3 linked regions of the Homo sapiens genome follow. The protein of the gene in region 1 binds, or shares a complex with, the protein of each later gene. Each region holds a gene or a part of one and is shown in the gene's direction. Other genes may lie near its edges. The genes, in order: VAMP8, SNAP29 and STX17.

What was found.
Region 2: the proteins of VAMP8 (region 1) and SNAP29 are in contact, whole or in part, in a crystal structure (PDB 4WY4), measured with the Homo sapiens proteins. Residues at the interface, in NP_003752.2 of Homo sapiens: Leu16 (codon at 5,478), Glu19 (codon at 5,487), Val20 (codon at 5,490), Val23 (codon at 5,499), Ile26 (codon at 5,508), Met27 (codon at 5,511), Gln29 (codon at 5,517), Asn30 (codon at 5,520), Arg33 (codon at 5,529), Ile34 (codon at 5,532), Arg37 (codon at 5,541), Asn40 (codon at 5,550), Leu41 (codon at 5,553), Leu44 (codon at 5,562), Lys47 (codon at 5,571), Thr48 (codon at 5,574), Asp50 (codon at 5,580), Leu51 (codon at 5,583), Thr54 (codon at 5,592), Ser55, His57, Phe58, Thr61, Ser62, Val65, Lys68, Phe69; in NP_004773.1 of Homo sapiens: Leu206 (codon at 577), Leu209 (codon at 4,695), Ser210 (codon at 4,698), Leu213 (codon at 4,707), Leu216 (codon at 4,716), Lys217 (codon at 4,719), Ala220 (codon at 4,728), Leu221 (codon at 4,731), Met223 (codon at 4,737), Gln224 (codon at 4,740), Ile227 (codon at 4,749), Glu228 (codon at 4,752), Gln230 (codon at 4,758), Asp231 (codon at 4,761), Leu234 (codon at 4,770), Leu237 (codon at 4,779), Thr238 (codon at 4,782), Val241 (codon at 4,791), Asp242 (codon at 4,794), Leu244 (codon at 4,800), Asp245 (codon at 4,803), Ile248 (codon at 4,812), Lys249 (codon at 4,815), Thr251 (codon at 4,821), Glu252 (codon at 4,824), Val255 (codon at 4,833), Arg256 (codon at 4,836), Leu258 (codon at 4,842).
Region 3: the proteins of VAMP8 (region 1) and STX17 are in contact, whole or in part, in a crystal structure (PDB 7BV6), measured with the Homo sapiens proteins. Residues at the interface, in NP_003752.2 of Homo sapiens: Gly9 (codon at 5,457), Val13 (codon at 5,469), Leu16 (codon at 5,478), Gln17 (codon at 5,481), Val20 (codon at 5,490), Glu21 (codon at 5,493), Val23 (codon at 5,499), Lys24 (codon at 5,502), Met27 (codon at 5,511), Thr28 (codon at 5,514), Asn30 (codon at 5,520), Val31 (codon at 5,523), Ile34 (codon at 5,532), Leu35 (codon at 5,535), Arg37 (codon at 5,541), Gly38 (codon at 5,544), Leu41 (codon at 5,553), Glu42 (codon at 5,556), Leu44 (codon at 5,562), Arg45 (codon at 5,565), Thr48 (codon at 5,574), Glu49 (codon at 5,577), Leu51 (codon at 5,583), Glu52 (codon at 5,586), Ser55, Glu56, Phe58, Lys59, Ser62, Gln63; in NP_060389.2 of Homo sapiens: Ser171 (codon at 1,430), Trp172 (codon at 1,433), Thr174 (codon at 1,439), Leu175 (codon at 1,442), Asp178 (codon at 1,523), Leu179 (codon at 1,526), Glu181 (codon at 1,532), Leu182 (codon at 1,535), Leu185 (codon at 1,544), Val186 (codon at 1,547), Phe189 (codon at 1,556), Leu192 (codon at 1,565), Val193 (codon at 1,568), Gln196, Glu198, Lys199, Ile200, Ser202, Ile203, His206, Val207, Ser209, Ala210, Asn213, Val214, Glu216, Gly217, Thr218, Asn220, Leu221.

Annotation. Positions count from the first base shown.
Region 1 is NC_000002.12:85,573,574-85,580,601, forward strand, and holds the start of VAMP8 (vesicle-associated membrane protein 8), read left to right. Parts: upstream 1-4,012; 5' UTR 4,013-4,073; coding exon 4,074-4,076; intron 4,077-5,435; coding exon 5,436-5,594; intron 5,595-6,168; coding exon of another isoform or gene 6,169-6,301; intron 6,302-7,028. UniProt on the Homo sapiens protein: SNAREs, soluble N-ethylmaleimide-sensitive factor-attachment protein receptors, are essential proteins for fusion of cellular membranes.
Region 2 is NC_000022.11:20,882,990-20,890,092, forward strand, and holds part of SNAP29 (synaptosomal-associated protein 29), read left to right. Parts: intron 1-481; coding exon 482-580; intron 581-4,689; coding exon 4,690-4,847; 3' UTR 4,848-7,103. UniProt on the Homo sapiens protein: SNAREs, soluble N-ethylmaleimide-sensitive factor-attachment protein receptors, are essential proteins for fusion of cellular membranes.
Region 3 is NC_000009.12:99,958,583-99,965,685, forward strand, and holds part of STX17 (syntaxin-17), read left to right. Parts: intron 1-1,334; coding exon 1,335-1,450; intron 1,451-1,522; coding exon 1,523-1,573; intron 1,574-7,103. UniProt on the Homo sapiens protein: SNAREs, soluble N-ethylmaleimide-sensitive factor-attachment protein receptors, are essential proteins for fusion of cellular membranes.

The DNA of each region.
Region 1 (7,028 bases):
GAGGCTTAGAGTTGTTATGCAAGTTTGTCCCAGGTCATGTAAATATTAAGGTATGGATCAGCCACCATGCCCAGTGATAAGCCACATTACAATATGTATTTTAACATTTTTCACTAATCACATAATTTACATTTTTCTACTGGCCAAATTTTAAAAGTAAGAGAAACAGGGCTGGATGCAGTAGCTCATGCCTGTAATGCTAACACTTTAGGAGGCTGAGGCAGGAGGATCACTTGAAACCAGGAATTTGAGGTTACAATGAACTATGATTGTGACACTGTACTCCAGCCTGGGTGACAGTGAGACCCTGTCTCAAAAAAAATAAATAAATAAATAAAAATGAATTTTAAAAAATAAAGAAACAGGTGAAATTATTATTATTATTATTTTTTTTTTTTGGAGACAGTCTCACTCTGTTACTCAGGCTGGAGTGCAGTGGCGCCATCACGGCTCACTGCAACCTCTGCTTCCCAGGTTCAAGTGATTCTCTTGCCTCAGCCTCCCGAGTAGCTGGGATTACAGGCAAGCGCCACCACGTCCAGCTAATTTTTGTATTTTTAGTAGAGACGGAGTTTCACCATGTTGGCCAGGCTGGTCTCAATCTCCTGACCTCATGATCGGCCTGCCTCAGCCTCTCAAAGTGCTGGGATTATAGGTGTGAGCCACCATCCCCGGCTGAAATTAATTTTATTTATTTTATTAATCTTTTATTTAACTCAATATATCCAAACATTATTTCGCCACATAATCAATATATAAAATTATTATTATTATCATTATTAGTGACAGGGTCTATCTCTGTCTCCCAGGCTGGAGTGCAGTGGCACTATCATAGCTCACTGATGTCTCACACCCCTGGGCTCAAGTGATCCTTCTGTGCTAGCTCTCCAAGCAGCTAGGACTATGGACATGCACCACTATGCCTGGCTAATTTTATTTTATTATTTATTTATTATTGGTTTTTTTTTTTGAGATAGAGTCTCACTCTTGTTGCCCAGGCTGGAGTGCAATGGTGTGATATCGGCTCACTGCAGCCTCCACCTCCCGGGTTCAAGCAATTCTCCTGCCTCAGCCTCCCGAGTAGCTAGGATTACAGGCATGCGCCACCATGCCTGGCTAATTTTGTATTTTTAGTAAAGATGGGTTTTCTCCATGTTGGTCAAGAGCTGGTCTCGAACTCCCGACCTCAGGTGATCTGCCCATCTCGGCCTCTCAAAGTGCTGGGATTACAGGCGTGAGCCACGGTGCCCAGCCAATTTTATTTTTTTAATTTTACTTTATTTTTATTTTATTATTATTATTATTATTATTATTACTTGAGACAGAGTCTCACTCTGTCGCCCAGGCTGAATTGCAACGGTGTGATCTCGGCTTACTGCAACCTCCGCCTCCAAGGTTCAAGCGACTCTCCTGCCTCAGCCTTCCGAGTAGTTGGGAATACAGGTGCCCACCACCATGCCCAGCTAGTTTTTGTATTTTTAGTAGAGATGGGGTTTCGACATGTTGATCAGGCTGGTGTCAAACTTCTGACCTCAGGTGATCCACTGCCTCGGCCTCCCAAAGGGCTGGGATTACAGGCATGAGCCACTGTGTCCAACAGTTTTATTTTTTTATAGAGACAGTGTCTTGATATGTTGTTGCCCAGGCTTATATATAATATTTGCTGAGCATGGTGGGTTATGCCTATAATCCCAGCACTTTGGGAGGCTGAGGTGGGAGAATCACTTGAGGTTTGGAGTTTGAGACCAGTTTGGACAACACAGCAAGACACTGTCTCCAAAAAAAAAAAAAAATTAACTGGACATGGTGGCCCTTGCCTGTAGTCCCAGCTAACTGGGGAGGATGAGGTGAGAAGATTGCTTGAGCCCAGGAGTTCAAGGCTGCAGTGAGCTTGAACACACTGCACTGTACTCTAGCCTGGATGACAGAGTGGGACCCTGCCTCTAAAAAAAAAAAAAAAAAGCTACAGGGGTCCGAAGTTTGTTTAAAGCTTTTAAAAAGGCATTTGTGGCCGGGCGCGGTGGCTCACGCCTGTAATCCCAGCACTTTGGGAGGCCAAGGCGGGCGGATCACCTGAGAGGTCAGGAGTTCGAGACCACCCTGACTAACATGGTAAGACCCTGTCTCTACTAAAAATACAAAAAAATTAGCCGTGCCTGGTGGCATGCACCTGTAGTCCCAGCTACTAGGGAGGCTGAAGCAGGAAAATCGCTTGAACCTGGGAGGCAGAGGCTGCAGTGAGCCGAGATAGCGCCATTGCACTCCAACCTGGGCAACAAGAGAGAAACATCTCAAAAAAAAAAAAAATTATTTGTGTCTGGATGTGGTGGCTCACACCTATGATCCCAACACTTTGGGAAGCTGAGGAGGGAGGATTACTTGAGAACAGGAGTTTGAGACCAGCCTGGGCAACATGGTAAGACCCCCATCTCTACAAAAAGTTTTAAAATAAATTAGCCAGACATGGCGGTTCGCACCTGTAGTTTCAGTTACTGGGGAGGCTGAGGCAGGACGATCGCTGTAGCCCAGGAGTTCAAGGCTGCAGGGTGCTACGATCATGCCACTGGACTCTAGCCTGGGTGACAGAGGGAGACTATCTCAAGAAAACAAAACAAAATAAACAAACAAAAAAAGTGTTTGTTGGAGAAGCTGACATTTCCTCCTTGGAACTGATTTCTTCTGGAATGGGTCAAGAATGTTCGTTCCCTTCTGAATGTCCCTGTTATTGTTCTTCTGTCTTGATAAACACTGTCAAGGAAGATCAGATTTTCTCTGGCCTGGAGCCAGGTTAGTGGAAAAATCCTTTGCCTTGGGCCCCCTGCTCTGGTTCACTGGGGCAGTCCTCTGATCACTGACTGGGATCAATTACCTCTGCGGTAGCCCCTAAAGGGAAATGCAGAATTGCTGAACTCTGGAAGGGAAGGAGAGGTTTGGTGAGCCATCATTATAGACACTGTGCTAGTGGCATTGCACTGCACATGCTATCTTTTTGCTTCTTTTTTTTTTTTTTTTTTTGAGGCAGAGTCTTGCTCTTGTCACCCAGGCTGGAGTGCAATGGCATGATCTCAGCTCACTGCAATCTCTGTCTCCCGGGTTCAAGCAATTCTCCTGCCTCAGCCTCCTGAGTAGCTGGGATTATAGGCAACTGCCACCACGCCTGTTTATTATTTTGTATTTTTAGTAGAGACAGGGTTTCGCCATGTTGGCCAGGCTGGTCTTTAACTCCTGACCTTGTGATCTGCCCGCCTCGGCCTCCCAAAGTGCTGGGATTACAGGCGTGAGCCACCACGCCCGGCCTCTTTTTGCTTCTTACCAGCACCATCTGAGCTAAGCATCAGCACCTGCAAACTCCACAGAGGTGAAAAGTTTCCCTGAGGGGCCTGTAACTAGTAACCCAGAACTTTCTGAATCAGAGCCCAGGATCACAGTATTCCAGACTTCAGGGATTTTAGTGCTTTCTGCCACCCAGGGACCTGGGAACAAGTGTTATCCAGCAATACATTTTCATAACTGCATTTTGTTTCCCTGTGAGCTAGGCCTGGCATGGTTGATCTCAGTCTCTAGAAACTGGAGTCAGATATTCAAGACATTACAAGGAGATGGCTGGTGGGGCATCATGGCTCCTAGGACTTTGGGAGGTTGAGGTGGGAGGATCGCCTGAGCCCAGGAGTTTGAGACCAGCCTGGGCAACATGGTGAGAACTCGTCTCTATTTAAAAAAAAAAAAAAAAAAAAAAAGGCTGCCCTTTCTAGATCAGGAGGTCCAGCCTCTGGAAACCTCGGAGGGCTGCTTGATCTTTCTTTTCTAATTCCTGACAAGTTAGAAGACCTTTGGCTTCTGAGAACCCTATTACTTTAAGTTTAAGCTCTTGTTTGGGAAGCCACTGGGAGGACAGTGAAGAATGCCCGCCTACCTGGGGAAACCTGAGTTAGGTGTGGCTGGAGCGACTCGAGATGCGAGGTGGGCGGGGGCAGGCTGAAAGTTGGAGCAAGCAGGAAGTGAACTGAGGGCCACCCTGGGAGGAAGCCGACTAGGCGAATTCACTTACTGACCGGCCTGGGCTGCTCTGAGACATGGTGAGCCAACTGGGAACTAGGAAAGGGCTGGTTTAAAGAGGAGCCAGAGGGGGCTTGGGACTGGGGGTTGGCTGTGTCGGGGGAGGAGAGTTGGTGGCAAAGTTAGAGGGCTGGGCCAGTGCTGCTATGGCCTCTCTTCTTTGACAACTTGGCTGCAAATAGCTCTGAGCTGTCCTGGCAGGTGTTTCTACTCCTTCTCCCTCCCTCCCCTGACCTCTGTGCTGGTGGGGAGCTGGGCTTCCGTGCCAGCGCCGATGGGGGCTCCGAATTCCAGGCAAAGAGTTGTTGTGCCTTCCTCCTCCAGGGAGCCCGAGGCGGGTGTTGTGACACCACACCAGGCAGCGCCTGGGCAGTTCCCAGTTCAGATTCCAGCCCAGCGGCAGAAGCTCTCCTCTCCGGCCTTTCACTTTATCCCCACACAGAAACACAAAGGATTTGTGTGTCCACTGAGTCCTTTGGGTGTCCTTTCTCCATTAACATGGAGAAGAGAACTAAAGGTTTATAAGAGAACCAGAAGTTGGTTCTCTGTGATAATGTAGTTCTGACCCATGCCACTGGCCTATTTTTGGAGGTCAAGCGGGGAGGAGCTAAATACTATTTTTCTCTCCTTGTTCAAAAACCTTGTCATGAAGCCTCCGAGATGAGACATCAGCCAGGGAGGACTAGTCCTCCATTTCCCCCAACACCCAGGCGGGTATTTTTATTTAATATCTGCATAAGCAGGCGGTTGCTTGGTGCCTGCACGTGTCGCCCAGTGGTGGGGAAAGCAGAAGTGTGTGGCTCAACGGCTCCAGGCGCCTTCTGGGATACTTGGTTGCCTGTTGTTCTGGGTCACAGCAATGGCATTGCGGCCAGGGCCGTGCTCCGGCAGCTGGCTTAGAGGGACAGATGGGTGGGGCTGGGTGAGGGTGTTCTGCTGGCCAGCACAGACACTTTCAACCAGGGTCCCAAGAAATCAGGAAAGGGGGGTGGCTCTGGGAATTGTAAATAGTGGCGGGCTCTGCTCTGGAAGGGAACATTGTGAGATGCTGGCCCTGCTGTATTCTACGGCCCTCTCTAGGGAGCAAGGAAGCAGTGGGGAGGGATTTAGTGATGTGCTGCTTTTCCTTGTCAGGGGCCCTAATAACCCCAAAAGAAGTTTGATCTAGTCTGTTCAGCATCACATCTCACCTTCTGGGGCTTACAAATGCATTTATTTTTGATTACAGAAGTAATACATGAAAACATTCTCTTTGTAAACATTTCAAGCATTTTACAAAAAGCTTAAGTCTGCCTGAGGCCTTACCCTCCCCAGATCTCTGAGCCCAAGTCTCCAGTTCCCCCACCACTTGGTCTAATTAACCCCGTGTTGCCGCACAGGAGGAAGCCAGTGAAGGTGGAGGAAATGATCGTGTGCGGAACCTGCAAAGTGAGGTGGAGGGAGTTAAGAATATTATGACCCAGAATGTGGAGCGGATCCTGGCCCGGGGGGAAAACTTGGAACATCTCCGCAACAAGACAGAGGATCTGGAAGCCACAGTGAGACAGGGAGCCCACTGGGGGCTGGAGGAAAACAGGGAGGGAGGGAATTTCTTTTTGGTGGGGCAAAATGGACAGGAGGGCCAGAAGTTTGACATTTCTGTTGCCTTTCACCTGGTTTGGGAGCTGATGTGAGCTGAGTCTCCACTTCTGAATCTGCTCTGCTCCACAGATTGTTATGGATCCCAGGGAATGGATCCCATGACTGGGGCTTGAGGTGGCAGCTCGCCCATAGAGGCATGTTCTGAGACCGAAAGCTCAGTCAGCCCATGCATTCTCAGGCTTCTCTCCCGGGAAACTTGTTTTCCCTTTGAAGCCTGCCCATGACAATCATCTGGGTCTGACCTTCCCAGGGCAGAAATATTGGCTCTGAGGAAACCCCCGCTGTGGCCTCTAGCCTTCTCTAGGAGCTGTTAGACAAGGGGTGGGAAATTGCTGGCGTCTTGCTGAGTAGGCTTTAAAAAGAAGGGGGAAAGAGCAGTGAAATGCTTTGATCCCAGGGTCCCCTGCTAGATGAAGGCTAAAATAATATCTCCCACACATCTTGCTAGACCTCATTCTTCTCTCTCTCCAGCCAGGGGCTGAGGCCAGCTGTTTCAGGGAGGAAGTAACTCCAAAGTTGAGCAAAGTCTGGAGCCTCAAGTTCTGTGTTCAGCGGGGAGGCTGGCTCTGGCTTTCTGAGTCCTGTGTGAACTCTTGGCTCTTGGGTATTGCTCCCTTGTCTCCCTGGGGCTCATTGCCTGTTTCTGTAGCTTAATTGTAGCTTAATTTGGGGAGCATGGCCCCGGGAATTTTTTTTTTTTTTTTAGACAGAGCCTCACTCTGTTGCCCAGGTTAGAGTGAGTGCAATCTTGGCTCACTGCAAACTTCACCTCCTGGGTTCAAACGATTCTCGTGCCTCAGCCTCCTGAGTAGCTGGGATTACAGTGTGCACCCCCACACCTGGCTAATTTTTTGTATTTTTAGTAGAGACGAAGTTTTGCCTTGTTGGCCAGGGTGGTCTTGACCTCCTGACCTCAGGTGATCCACCTGCCTTGGCCTCTCAAAGTGCTGGGATTACAGACTTGAGCCACCATGTCTGGACAAGCCCCAGGAAATTTAGTGTCTATAACTTGAATTGCTGGGCATGGGGAAGAGTGGGTGGAGGAGGAGGAGTTCCCTTACTTCCAACCCTCTATCCTGTCCTGGTCCCTCCTCCAGCCTCAGCAGTCCCGATGGGGCAAGGAGTCCTGGAGCTGCGAGATGTGCCCACCTGGAGCCTGCACCCCTCAGTCCCAGGGTCTGCCCTCCCAAGGGCAGATTTTGCTGCCAGTGTTGTACCCTTGGGTGTAAGCAGGTGTCGAGGACCCCTCAGTGTGCAGGGGTAAGAAGAGAAAGGGGACCCCTAGTCATATCTAGGTGGAGACCTCCTAGGATCCTGAGAATTCTAAATTT
Region 2 (7,103 bases), on another chromosome or scaffold:
TAACATTTCTTTTTTTTTTTTTTGCGTATTTGTTTCAAGTGCAAAGATAGTGTAGAAATAAATTTCAGAAAGAAACGAAATTACCCATAATTCCATTTATGTAACGTAACAATTTGTATTTTTATACTTTGTCCACAGACTGTGTAGTTTTGCATTATTGCAGTTCCACTTCTGTATTGTCACTTGTGTGACTCTGTCTTTCCTGAGCTTGTGCACCAGGAGTTAGGTGACCCTTAATTTGAGGGTGTTTGATCTCCCAAGTACTGAGGGAAAGTGAGAACCCTCTCCTACCCCGTGGAAGCGTCTCTTCTTCTGGCCCATGAGCCTGCGCTGTGCTCCTCCCTCATCCCTCTGGATAGCCTCAGAACCAACCCCTTCGTTCCTTCCACCCATTTTCCAGATGAAATTGTTTTGGGTGTGTGAAGCAGCATTTGAAGGAATGTCAATTAACCGCTCTCCTGGTGTTTCCTTCTAAACTTAGACCCTGTCCCCAGAGGGGCTGGTTCTGCCATGAGTACTGATGCTTACCCAAAGAACCCACACCTTCGAGCCTATCACCAGAAGATCGACAGCAACCTAGGTAAGACTGAGCACCACACCAGCTTCTGTAAGCCACTGTCCTTCAGGCAGCTTACGCCAAGCATAGCCCCTGCATGAGCATCCTCCAGCTTCAGTTCCCTCACCACACATCACATCCCACGCCAAGCTGGGTCCATCTTGCCACCTCACTGTCTCTGGAATCTCTCCACTTCTCACCATTTCCTACTTCTAGCCCAGCCGAGCCCTCCCCACCTCTCACTTTCATGAACAGCACCAGGGACCCAGGAGTCCCTGAGAGGCCATAAAGTATAGCCTGGACGTGACCGCTCACTTCATCCTTCCCACCTGGCCACTCAGAGCCCTGTTTTCCTCCTTGTGAAATGGGCTACCTCTGAGAACAGTGGAAAGGTTACCTGAGCCAGAAAGTGCCTGGGATGGTAAGAGTTAGTGCTCGTGTTGCAATTGGCACTTTGGCCACACAGCCTCCAGCATGATGTTTCAAAACGGAAGGGTGTGCAGGGGGCCGGGCGCAGTGGCTCACGCCTGCAATCCCAGCACTTTGGGAGGCCAAGGCGGGTGGATCACCCGAGGTCAGGAGTTCAAGACCAGCCTGACCAACATGGTGAAACCCTGTCTCTACTAAAAATACAAAAATTAGCCGGGCGTGGTGGCAGGCGCCTGTAATCCCAGCTATCGGGTGGCTGAGGCAGGAGAATCACTTGAACCCGGGAGGCAGAGGTTGCAGTGAGCCAAGATCGCACCATTGCACTCCAACCTGGGCAACAAGAGCGAAACTCCACCTAAAAAAAAAAAAAAAGAAGAAGTGAAGGGTATATTCTTCCAGAACTCTCTCATGGAACCCCACACACTCACAGTGCAGTCCAGGCTCTCTTTGGCTGCCCTAGTCCCTTCTGCCCTCATCACCTGCAGGCTCGTGTGGGATTTCTGATGTGAGTTCTTTCTGCCTCGTGGCCCCTATCTGCCTGGATGGGCTCCCCCGACTCTCTGTAGGCTGGCTCCTTCTCTTTCTGTCAGTCTTGCATTAGTATGGCCTCCTCTCCCTGTCTCTCAGGACCCTTGTGTTTCCAGGGGGCTGCCCTGGCCGTTTGTGATTGTGTATCTGCTGGTTTGCCTGCTGTCTTCCCAATCAGACTGTAGATTCCAGGACAGCATGGGAGTGTTTCCATTTTGTCACTACTTTGTATCTGGGGCCCAGCAGGCAAGCACTTAGTGATTATGTTTTGTTTTGTTTTGTTTTGTTTTGAGACAGAGTTTTGCTTTTGTTGCCCAGGCTGCAGTGCAATGGTGCAATCTCAGCTCACTGCAACCGCTGCCTCCTGGGTTCAAGCGATTCTCCTGCCTCGGCCTCCCGAGTAGCTGGAATTACAGACATGCACCACCATGCTCAGCTAATTTTGTATTTTTAGTAGAGATGAGGTTTCTCCTTGTTGGTCAGGCTGGTCTCGAACTCCCGACCTCAGGTGACCCGCCTGTCTCGGCCTCCCAAAGTGCTGGGATTATAGGTGTGAGCCACTGCGCCCTAGCCAGTGATTATTTTTTGAATGGAAAAGTCAGTTACTTGAAATTCAAGTAGGTGTTGGCCTGTGGGCAGTTCTGTGAGTTTATTCTAAGTAGTGTCTCAGACTTGCTGCCTCCTCCTACCGCTACTCCCTGAGCAGAAATCTCCCCCGTGGTGACCTGGGTCACCCTGTCAGTCTCCCACCCCCTGTTAGGAGTTGGCAAAGTGTAGGGGACAAATAATAAAATCCTCCCCTGCTGTAAAGGTATCTAGTGGAAGGCAAAACTGAAACCCATGAAGATGCACATGGAGTGTCTGTGCACGGGTTTTCTCCTGCTTGCTGTCTGGGAAGCCCCAGACAGCTGCCACCTCCTTCTATGCCCTGGACTCTGTCCTCCAGAGCCAAAGACTTATCTGAGGCAGAAGGTGTGTCTGCCCAGATCTAACCACTCCAGAGAAGCCCAGAGAGGCGTGAAAGCCCTTTGTCCTTCACTGCGAGAAAGGGAGAGGTTAGGGCTAGTGGTATGGTTGGTGCCTGCTGGCAGAAGTGGGAGAAGGGACTTTGAGGAAGGATACTGCATTCAGAGGCAGGAAGAAGTGCTGAGTACTGCCCGCCACTAGGAGGTGCTGAGGGTGCACAGTTGGCACTGTGGACGAGCAGCTGGGCAGTTACCGGCAGGACGCAGTCTAGAGTAGGAGGTGGGCCTGGGCAGAAGGGCGAGTGGCTAGTTCAGAGCTCAGCCCTCTGGCCCTGCTGACACAGGCCAGGCCGGTCCACTCTGGTGGGGCAGGGAGTGTTGCCTTTGTTCACACTCTTCCCGTCTTAACACTATCTCCCTGCTATTTCAGGATCTCAGGCAAGCTCTCTGGACTCCAGCGCCCTGGCCTGGTGGTTTTACATTATCACACATTTTATCTCAGCCTCTCTGTTTGCTTATCCTTTGCTGCCCTGGCTGCCAGTGAGCTTCCTCCTGAGGCCTGAGGCAACCACAGGCTCTGCTCTCCATGGAGCACGAGGCCATGAATTTTAGTAAGCTTAAGAAGCAAAGAGCTGAAGACTTATCTTTTTTTTTTTTTTAATTTTAATTATACTGTTTTTCTCTTTCTTTTCTTTTCTTTTTTAGAAATGGAGTCTCGCTTTGTTGCCCAGGCTAGTCTCCAACTTCTGGGCTCAAGTGATCCTCCCACCTCAGCCTCCCAGAGTGCTGGGATTACAAGCATGAGCCACTGTGCCTGACTTGAAGACAATCTTTTTATTTTTATATTTTTTAATTTCTTTCTGAGAGTTTTACTCTGTCGCCCAGGCTAGAGTGCAGTGGCACAATCTCAGCTCACTGCAGCCTCTGCCTGCTGGGTTCAAGTGATTCTCATGCCTCAGCCTCCCGAGTAGCTGGGATTACAAGGTGTGCACCACCATGCCCAGCTAATTTTTGTATTTTTAGTAGAGACGGGGTTTCACCATGTTAGCCAGGATGGTCTCGATCTCCTGACCTCAAGTGATCCACCCACCTCGGCCTCCCAAAGTGCTGGGATTACAGGCATGAGCCACCACACTCAGCCTATCTTTTTATTTCATTTTTTGAGACGGAGTCTTGCTCTGTCGCCCAGGTTGGAGTGCAGTGCATTGATCTCAGCTTACTGCAACCTCCTCCTCTCAGGTTCAAGTGATTCTCTTGCCTCAGCCTCCCGAGTAGCAGGGAATACAGGCATGCACCACCACATCTGGCTAATTTTTATATTTTTTAGTAGAGATGGGGTTTCACCATGTTGGCCAAGCTGGCCTCAAAATCCCGACCTCATACGATCCACCCACCTCAGCCTCTCAAAGTGCTGGGATTACAGGCATGAGCCATTGTACCCGGCCAAAACTACCTTTTTAAAAAAACTGATTTTGGCCGGGCGCGGTGGCTCACGCCTGTAATCCTAGCACTTTGGGAGGCCAAGACGGGCGGATCACAAGGTAAGGAGTTCGAGACCAGCCTGGCCAATATGGTGAAACCCTATCTCTACTAAAAATACAAAAAAAATTAGTCGGGTGTGGTGGCGTGTGCCTGTAGTCCCAGCTACTCAGGAGGCTGAGGCAGAAGAATTGCTTGAACCCAGGAGACGGAGGTTGCAGTGAGCCGAGATCATGGCACTGCACTCCAGCCTGGACAAAAGAGCAAAATGCTGTCTCAAAAAAAAAAAAAACAAAAAACTGATTTTGCTTAGATTTGTGGTACCAGTGCTAAGCCTTTGTGTATCCTGATCCTTTTTCTCTTAGTGTTTTATATTTAATCTTGCAAGTAAGAAGGCTTACAAAGCACCACCTCTTCTCTCTCCTCTCTGGCTCTTTCCTGGCTGCTGTTCCTAGTAAAAAGGCAGAAAGCAGCCCTGGGCATATCTCCCTACCCCCAGCGTGCACAAACACACACACACATACACACACACACACACAGTCACAAACCTGGGAAAAGGCTTTACTCTTCACCCTGACAGAATCAATTAAGTCAAGACTCATCTCTGCAGTGGGTGCAGTCCCCCCAGGCAACACAGATCCCTGTCTCTCCCACTTACCCACACCATCAAGAAGCATTTGCAGGTGCCGTGACTGTTTGCTCATGCCTGCGTGTCATTTCCTCCTCCTGCAGATGAGCTGTCCATGGGACTGGGTCGTCTGAAGGACATAGCCCTGGGGATGCAGACAGAAATTGAGGAGCAAGATGACATTCTTGACCGGCTGACAACCAAAGTGGACAAGTTAGATGTCAACATAAAAAGCACAGAAAGAAAAGTTCGACAACTCTGAAGACAGACGGATTTCCACTCTATTGTGATGAAAAGATTTGAAAGATCTTTTTTTGAACTTCCAAGAAATTTCATTTACTATTTTAGTATGTAAATTAATGTGTGTTTGCAAATGTTATAATAGAGTAGGTCTTAAGACATTTTTGCTGTTATAAGGAAGTGTTTGTCCCACATTTTCCTAGGGTTAACACCTCACCAAGTTCTTCCAGCAAAATGCTTATTAGAGTTTTTGTCTGAGCACAGTAGCCTGGCCCTGCATATCTTGGGCGTTTGATTACCATGCTGGAATAAGAAGAGTTGCATTTCTCATTTTAATGAGCATATGGAAAGATGGGAACAGAATTTCAGTCTTGCAGCCATGAGCCTCTATTTCTCATTCCTAAGCCTTACCATGAGTCAGAGTGTTAAGGGGGCCTGTGAACCAGTCGTTTGGTGGAGGAGGGTCCTTCCCACACCTTTGTTTAGGAGTCATCATTCACACACACACACACACACACACACACACACACACACACACACACTCTCTGAGCACATTATCTGTGATTCTTTCATCCTCCCAGAAAGGATCAGTGTTAGAATGGGAAATAGAGTGTGCCATCTTGCTCTTTTGTTGGCAGATGTCCCCGCTTCCCTCCAGCCCCCCATCCTTGGCATGTATATTAGTAGGAGGGCTTCACACCAGCACTGCTCACTGCGACTCCTGGAAATGTGTGGGGAATTGGGTGAGCCCCTCTTCCCCACGTGCTCCCATCTGTAACTCTCCATCTGTGATTTGCAACAGGTCTTCCACTGGCTCGAGGCTGCGAGGCTGACCGACAGGGGCGCCCAATAGAGTTTGTGGGAATGGAGTATTGCACAGATGCAGCTGCACAATGGTCTTCCTCCACCCCTCTGGGAATCACCATTAGGCAGGCCTCAGTAGGGCAAAATGTTTATTTGGTACCGGGGGTCTCCTGACCTGTCTAGCATTCCCACCCACTCTTCTGCACTTCTTGCAAGGTAACTTGAATCATCACTTATTTCTCTGCCACCTGGTTTTAGGACTGGCACTCTATAAATGACGCTGACTTTGTATAGAAGGATTTTGCTAAGGGGGCAAAAAGCCCAGATACCATTTTAACTGGCCCAGTTCATTTTCTCCTTTCATTTTACAAAAGAAATCATGCAGAAGCATCAATTAAAACTGATTTATTTATGTTGGTACATCCAACAAAATAGTTGGAGCCACAAGGCCCTTGTCTTTTTAAAAAAACAAAATATTTTGAAGATGGTGAAAGTGACTGATTTTAATAATGAGATAGGTCACTTAAAATAACAGTGCCTTTGACCTTAAAACATGGCACTGGCCCATGTGACCTTTGCCATTTCCCAGTACTTCCCTTTACAGTCTGCAGCCTATAAACAGTGGTGTCTCAAAGCAAAGGAAACCTCCACAAGTGCTGCAACAGTGCATTAGTTTTTATGTAGCAATTTGTTTATAAAAATTCCCATCCCATAATGCATGACCTTCCTAAAAATATCCACAGCCTCCATAGGCAAGGTGAGCTTTCTGTGCTACCCACTTGTTAGATTCCAGCCACCTCAGGGATTCTGATCCATGTCATTAACGACCATCCCAGGGTGTGAGGGCCTGATTAAAGCTTATCGAACTAGACATTTGTTTATTAGATGAGCTCGGCATTATTATTTTCTCAATAACTGGTAGAAGGGAAATTTTAAACATAACACTCAACCCAAACAAAACTACTTCGTGAGGCTTTCAGCAAAAAGGCTGCTTAAAAGCATGAACCCGGGATGCAGAGCAGCTTTTGTGCACGGTTCCACTTACTGTAATTGTTTCTGGTTCTTTCCTCTAACACCTTCCATGTATGTCAACTTTTTATCACCGTCAGGCATAGACTCGTGGAGATTAGTCATTATAGCTCAGACCTAAGCTAATTATTTAAAATAAATACATGTAAAGGCCACTGCCACATTCTCAGCAGACTTCCACTTGCCTAATGAGATTAGTGATTCAACTGACTTGAAGCACAGTAACATCTTATTTTATGCACATTCCCTGTCTTTTGCTGGACTGATGAAGCCAGTCACCCGCCCTTCTCTGTTTTTTGGTTTTTTTTTTCTTAACCCCAGGTATATGGAAGGGGAGTTGCCTTCACTTTTCTGGAAATTTGTCTTCGTCTGACATATTAGAGGGCCTCGTTTTGTCCTGTTCTTGTTCAGACCCTCTCGTTCTACGTCCTGTGCTGAGGGGACT
Region 3 (7,103 bases), on another chromosome or scaffold:
TTATAAATAGCCAAATCAGAATTCTAACCCAAGTCTTTCTGACTAGGCCCAGGCTCCTAACCACTACACTATGTTGCCTCCTCCGAACTGTTTTTATGGTTTGCCATTGTGTCTGCAGCACCTCAGCACACTGATCAGCAGGTAGTAGGCATTTAATAAATGTCAACTCAATGAATGAATGATTGGTAAAACCAATATGAGGAAATAAAGACTTGAAGGTAGATTTTAAAGTGTGAATTAATTCATCATCATAGCAGTGTTTAATGGGGAAAGTCCTACTGGGTTGACAACTTTTTAAAACTCAAAAGAAGTAGAAGCAATGGAGTCATGGGCCAGAAGATTGAGGAGAAGAGTAGTGACAAAAAAGACACATATGGTAATGTTTGGTGACAATCTTATTATTACCAATAGTGACTGATTATCATTAATAAAAATATATTACTTCCCTGCTTTCAACACCTTCTGTATCTGGTATTTACATTGAAATAGCCAAATAGAAGTTTAAGGATGAAAAATATTAAACCTATTTATATAGGTACGTCTCCTTGGAACATTGGCCAAGTAGAATAGTTTTCTTTTGGTGCTTCTTCCACATTTAGCCCTAGTTATTCAGATTGGATAGATAGTATTTGTAGCCATTTTTTAAATGACTGTGTAGATTAAAAAAATATGTGTGTAAGCTTGGTGTCATGGCTTACGCCTGTAATTCTAGCATTTTGGGAAGCTGAGGCAGGAGGATCAGTTGAGGCCGGGAGTTCAAGACCAGCCTGGGCAACATAGCAAGACTGTGTGTCAATTAAAAACAAAAAAAAAAATTTTAGAAAAAAAAAATGTGTTAACTAATCTGGGGAACAAGCTACCCTATGGATAAATCTTTTTTTTTTTTTTTTTTTTGAGGCAGGATCTTGCTCTGTTCACCTAGGCTGGAGTGCAGCGGCGTGATCACTGCTCACTGCAACCTCGACCTCCCAGGCTGAAGTGATCCCCCCACCTCAGCCTCCCAAGTAGCTGGGACTACAGGTGTGTGCCACTACACCTGGCTAACTTTTTAATTTCTTTGTAGAGACGAGGTCTCACTCTGTTGCCCAGACGGGTCTTGAACTCCTGGGCCCAGGCAGTCCTCCCGCCTCAGCCTGCCAAAGTGCTGAGATTATAGGTGTGAGCCACTGCACCCAGCCAAACAATTCTATTTTTGTAGAATAATCAATTTCCTTTTAGCCTAAATTTAATTAGACACCATTTAACGTGGCATTTGTTTTATGAAATCAATTTATGCTGTCTCTTTTCTAACAAAGCAAATAAACTCTAAACATGGGGTTATTATGTTCATCCAGGAGCATTTCATACTACTGAAGCTGAAGCTAGTTCTCAGAGTTTGACTCAGATATATGCCTTACCTGAAATTCCTCAAGATCAAAATGCTGCAGAATCGTGGGAAACCTTAGAAGCGGTATGTTAAAAAATGTTTTCTTTTTGGTAGTTGTGAGGCATAAAAGTAACTTCCTCTCCCTTTCTTTTAAAGGACTTAATTGAACTTAGCCAACTGGTCACTGACTTCTCTCTCCTAGTGAATGTAAGTATATAACTGTTTTGGATGCAGAATTGTTGGATTATTAGAATGAGAAGCTTTTATAATCACTAGGCTTTTAATTAGAATTTTAATAGAACTTATAATTTTTAAGACTGGTATTAAGCCATAGATAGAAGTTTAACTGTTCTCAAATTCCAGATTAATTCAAGAAACTTTTATTAAGCACTTGTTATATACAAGCAGTGTGTTAGATGCTTAACATTGAGAGTGTGGTCAGGTTGGATATAGAAATAAATGAAGCCCATTCTCTGCCTTTGAAGATTCTTGTTTTTTGTGTTTTTTTTTTTTGAGACGGAGTCTCACTCTGTCGCCCAGGCTGGAATGCAGTGGCACAGTCTTGGCTCACTGCAACCTCCGCCTCCCAGATTCAAGCGATTTGCCTCCCTCAGCCTCCTGAGTAGCTGGGATTACAGGCACGTGCCACCATGCCCAGCTAGTTTTTGTATTTTTAGTGAAGACGGGGTTTCACCATGTTGGTCAGGCTGGTCTCAAACTCCTGACCTCATGATCCACCCGCCTCAGCCTCCCAAAGTTCTGGGATTACAGGCATGAGCCACCACGCCCTGCTGCCTTTGAGCATTCTACAGTGAGTGGAGATAGGCCTGGACCCCAGAAACTGAGCTTTCAAGCATGATGGCTAAATGCAAAAGCAAGAATGAAGAGAGGTATTATCAGCTCCAAGGAAAAGCATTTAATTCCAAAGGAAGGAGGCAGGAGTCATAAGGTAGAAAGAAGCATTAAGGATAGCTTCACACAGGTAGACAGTATTTGTATGAGCCTTGAAAAATGAGTAAATATCCACTGGGGGAAGTTATGGAGTATATTTGAGAAGCTGAACAAAGACATGGAGTAGAGAAGTGTATGGCCTGTTCCAGATTGACAAGTACTGCAGTATAACCAAAGCATAAGGTACCATGGGCAAGCAAGGAGGGTGAGGGCCAGATTGTGATGGCTTTGAATGCCATGCTAAAGAATTTGAACTTTACTTTGTGGGCATTAGAAAGCCTAATACTGATTCTTGAGCAGGTTAGAGTCATGCAATTCAGTCTGTGCTTCAGAAAGATCACTGTTGGCTTTGTGAATAATGGCCTAAGAGAGGAGGAGGTCATGGAAAGGAAGACTGGTTAGGAATCAATTGCAAGAGTTCACCTGGAGCAATGGCAATACCAGTGTAAAGGTAAAGGACAGCTGAGAGATATTTCTGGGGGACTTAACAGAAATTGGAGGAAGATGGAGCCAAAGATAAGGAACATTGTCTTTATTCTGCATAATTGGGTGTCAGTGATACTGTTAACATAGATTAGGAAGCACAAAGTCAATTTGTTGGGAAAGATAGATTTTCCACCATTTTTCTAAATTGTTCTTTTTGTCTTTCTCAGGAGTTATGGGAAGGTAGGATGTATGAATACGTGTGTATGTATATTTATGTATGTGTGTCCACACAGGCATACCTGTTTCTGCTTGCAGTTCTGTCTAGGTTTAGTTCTTTGTTTCTGATCTAACCATGATTTTGGGGTTATCTTTGAGTTACGGTTTCCCTGAGATCTAATTTTAAATGAGAAGTTCCTAGATCACACAATCAGAATTGGAATGAGAAAGGACTCAAGAGGCCAACTAATCTAATCCCTCTACTCTTGCCCCAATTTCTAAAATAAATGGTCTTTTAGCCTCTTTTGGAACAATTACAGCACAAGGATATTGATACTTAAACTATTGCATTTGGAGGGTCTAACTCTTAGAAGGGTTAGAGTTAAAAGTGTCTGCCCTATAATAACTTCTTTTTGGCATTTTTGGCCTCTAAAGCTACGTACTGAACAAATTTTGCCTTCTTTCCATATGAAAGTCTTTCAAGGTTTTGAAACCATCATCTTTCCTCACTCTATCCCACCCCACCATATTTTCTTCTCTTCAGAACCCTTGCTTCTTTTGCATTCCTTCTACAATATAATTTCTAGGCTTCTCAATACTGGCTTCTTACTATGCTTATGTTCCATATTCTGAATATTTTCTTGAAATGTGTTACCTAAAATTGAATGCAGTAAATTGTTTGAATTGCTTCTGGATGCCTCTAAGTTAGAAGAAGCAAAATATTTGAAGTTTCTGGATTAGGTATCTGTACAATATTAATATACTCGCAAACAGAAGGAAATAATAGAACAAGAATCCCAAAATATCTGTTGTTTCAGAATCAACATTTATTCAACTATTGTAAACTAATAATCTCTGAATCCAGTGCAGTTTGTAAAACCTATACATGTATGGTTACACAAATATATACACTTGCCAAAAGTCATTGGTCTGTACACATAAAATGTGTTTTAATATATGTAAATTATACCTCAATAAAGCTGATTTTAAAAAACAAACTACACATGTACAAAGTTCTTACTCAGTACAAACACATTTCTTTTCTACTGGGATAGGCACATAAAAGAAATATTAAAGGTCTGTGACCATAAGATAGTTACATGTTTGATTATATTATGTAAGCAGCTCATAACCTCTAATCTAAGGGAGATTTGTGTAGGAAAACTCTGGCTGTAGCCACAGCTCTATACAAATGTCCTGTTTGTAATAATCTGTTTAAGTACATGAGACAGAATGCTAATAAGCAAAAGCTCAAAGGAGAACCCCTGATTATTATTCCCAGGGTGACTAAGTTCTCATGACCACATGGCCAAGGATTCACAGAAGCTCTATTTAGGCACAGAATGACCTAGGAACATAACCAGAGTGACCACATCCTCTCATTATCATCACATGGACATGATAGTGTCTAGACAAATTAACCATGTATTTAAGGAACACTTTCTATCTGCGTAGCACTGTGCTAAGCTTAATGAGGAATAGAAAAAAGCATTTAAAAAACTTACAAGATAGTAATAGTGGTTGCACAATATTGTGAAGTTACTTATTGCCACTAAATTGTACACTTCAAAATGGTTAAAATGGTAAATTTATGTTATATTTATTTTACCACTATAAAAAGAACTTACAAAGCCATTGACAGATCAAGGTATAGTACAATAAATGTTAATAAATTAATATCTACTAGGTACCCTGCTCTATTTTTCTTCAGCCTTTGTTGTTCAAGTGCCCTCTTCTCTCCCTATAACTTTGTAACTAGCCCTATTTCTAGTCAAGGAGAATTTAAAGAACCCTGGGCCAGTAGTTCAGTAACAACTCACCCTTGCTGCTAGTCTGTTTTGACTTCTGCCTTTTGCCTTATTCCCTGTCGTTTTTGTAATCCAGTTTTACTCTGGAAACATAAAAACTGGTTGCAATGGATTAGATCAGATTCCTTCATTTATTACCTATGTGACCTTCAGGATGTTATTTGACAACAATGAGCTTTATAACACTGATGGGAGGACTAAATGAGGTAATGTGTATTATTAAGTACTTCCCATTCTGTTCCCTTCCACTGACCCCAACTGCATTCCCACTTTTGTCCTTCCTTTATTTTCATTCCTTGTTTGGCTCCTTGCAAAAATTCTACTTTTTCCACCACTATTATCCTTAGGCATTTTAGTACTGGAATTCCTTCAGTCCCTTTCCAACTGCTGAATCCTCTGTTAGCAACATCCTACTTATCTACTCTGCTTATTGCTTACTCGAAGCCAATATAATCACTTATTTTGCCTATATATCATAGTATTTATAAGTTTGTTTCTGGGCCTTTTTGTGTATATGATTGCATATGATTAAGGAGTATATAGAATATATCATAGGAGTTTAGAACCAGAATAGCTCAATGTGAACAGGATTGGTCAAGATCTAAGATTAGAACTTGGCCTTGAAGGCTGGCTGGAATTTAGAGAGGAATAAATGGACGTACCTGGAGTTTTGGTATTACCCTCTTAAATAAACTCGTAGCTTTCCAAGAACCTTAAACTTTACAACTACTATCAGAACTCTCTATGGAAGACCACTGTTAATGATATAAATGGATTTGGGGGTTAATTTTTGAATGTATTATTATTGCTTGACATAGAGGATGCTAGGCCTACAAGTGTCCCCAACAGGCATTCAAGAACAAAACAGTTCATTGGTTTTGAATTTATATTCCCAAATTGCATTCTGCTTGACAAGTATAATAAATCACAGTTTATACAGAAACTTAGGTACTCCTATAGCTGTTCGTCAAGATTTGTTATGTTCAGGCCAATAGGGGGACTTAATTCAATGTTCTTTAAAATGAAATCCGTAGACATATTCTTAGAGTCATTTGAGAATTTTCTTTTTCTGTAAAAGGAGGTCAGTATATTACTCTAGCTTGAGAAACACTGCAGTGTAATGAGCTAAACACTTAAATATGGTTTAGCTCATTGTTAAAGGAATGCTGAGAACATATATGGGGTGCCAAACTATAAAATGGCAGGTATGGAATTTGAAGATTGTCAAATGTGGGAGGCCTAAGCAGATGAAAATAAACATGAGCAAATCAGAAGCAAAACCTCAGGGGAGATTGATAGATAGAGGTTAGGAGGCTCCTGCACCACCATTAATGTTTAGAGCTTGATTTCACAGGCTGGGGCAGGGTTGTATATGTATCTTTTGGTCCCACAAAAAGAGCCAAGGACATAGTGGACAGGTAGTGACCCAATTCAGCTCTGTATGGAGTCTGGTTTGGCATTCTGCTGATGGTAATTGACAACTCTGTGACAATAGTTTGCTGCCTAACTGTAACCTTTGTGGGGGTCAGTGAGTCCTCCTTACTCAAGAAGCAGAATTTGAAGATATGGGCAAAGTTTGAAGTTGCAAACCAAGCAAAATACGGACAAGAGAAAGGCAGACGTGCACAATCGAGGGGTGATTATTGATCCCAGGATAGGGGCTGTCTGCCCTCTGCCTTATTCCCACACCCCAGCCCCATATCTTAGCATGCTTTCTGATGGCATGAATAAATACTTATAGATGTGGGCTACTCCCCAGGGTGGGATGGGCCTCATCAAATGCTGGTGATTGCAATGATGGGGAACTTTGTAGTTCAAATAATTAGTGATCTCAGGATTGGTTTTTTGCCTGTGGTTGCTTCTTCAGTTATTCCAAATGATTTTTATGAAAAAATATTTAAATTATTTTAAAATTTTGCTTTAATTTTTAAAAAGTCATAGAAGTACAATATCCAACCCTTTTTAAAGGAAGGAACATTAGAAAGTATTTCCCTGAGGCTTTACGATTACACTTGGGGTATAGAAATGGCAATAATCCTGGCAGGCTCCTCCCTCTTGCTGGAATTATTTTGGGGCTGAAGGAAGGGAGACACTGACTATTTTTCCTCTACCTTTCAACTCATCAACATATGACGGCTGATGGTAGAGTTTTAAGCCTGTGATTTATCTGCTAGCATAGACTGTTTCAGGCAAGAGTGGAAAGTGTTGGGGGTGTCCTAAATAGAAACAATGATAGGGTGTCAGAAATCTAGACAAGTTGTATATTATTAGTGCTGGAACTTTTTCTTCTATGGGTCAGAAAAAGAAAGCTGACTTAAATAAGTTTTGCTATTGAG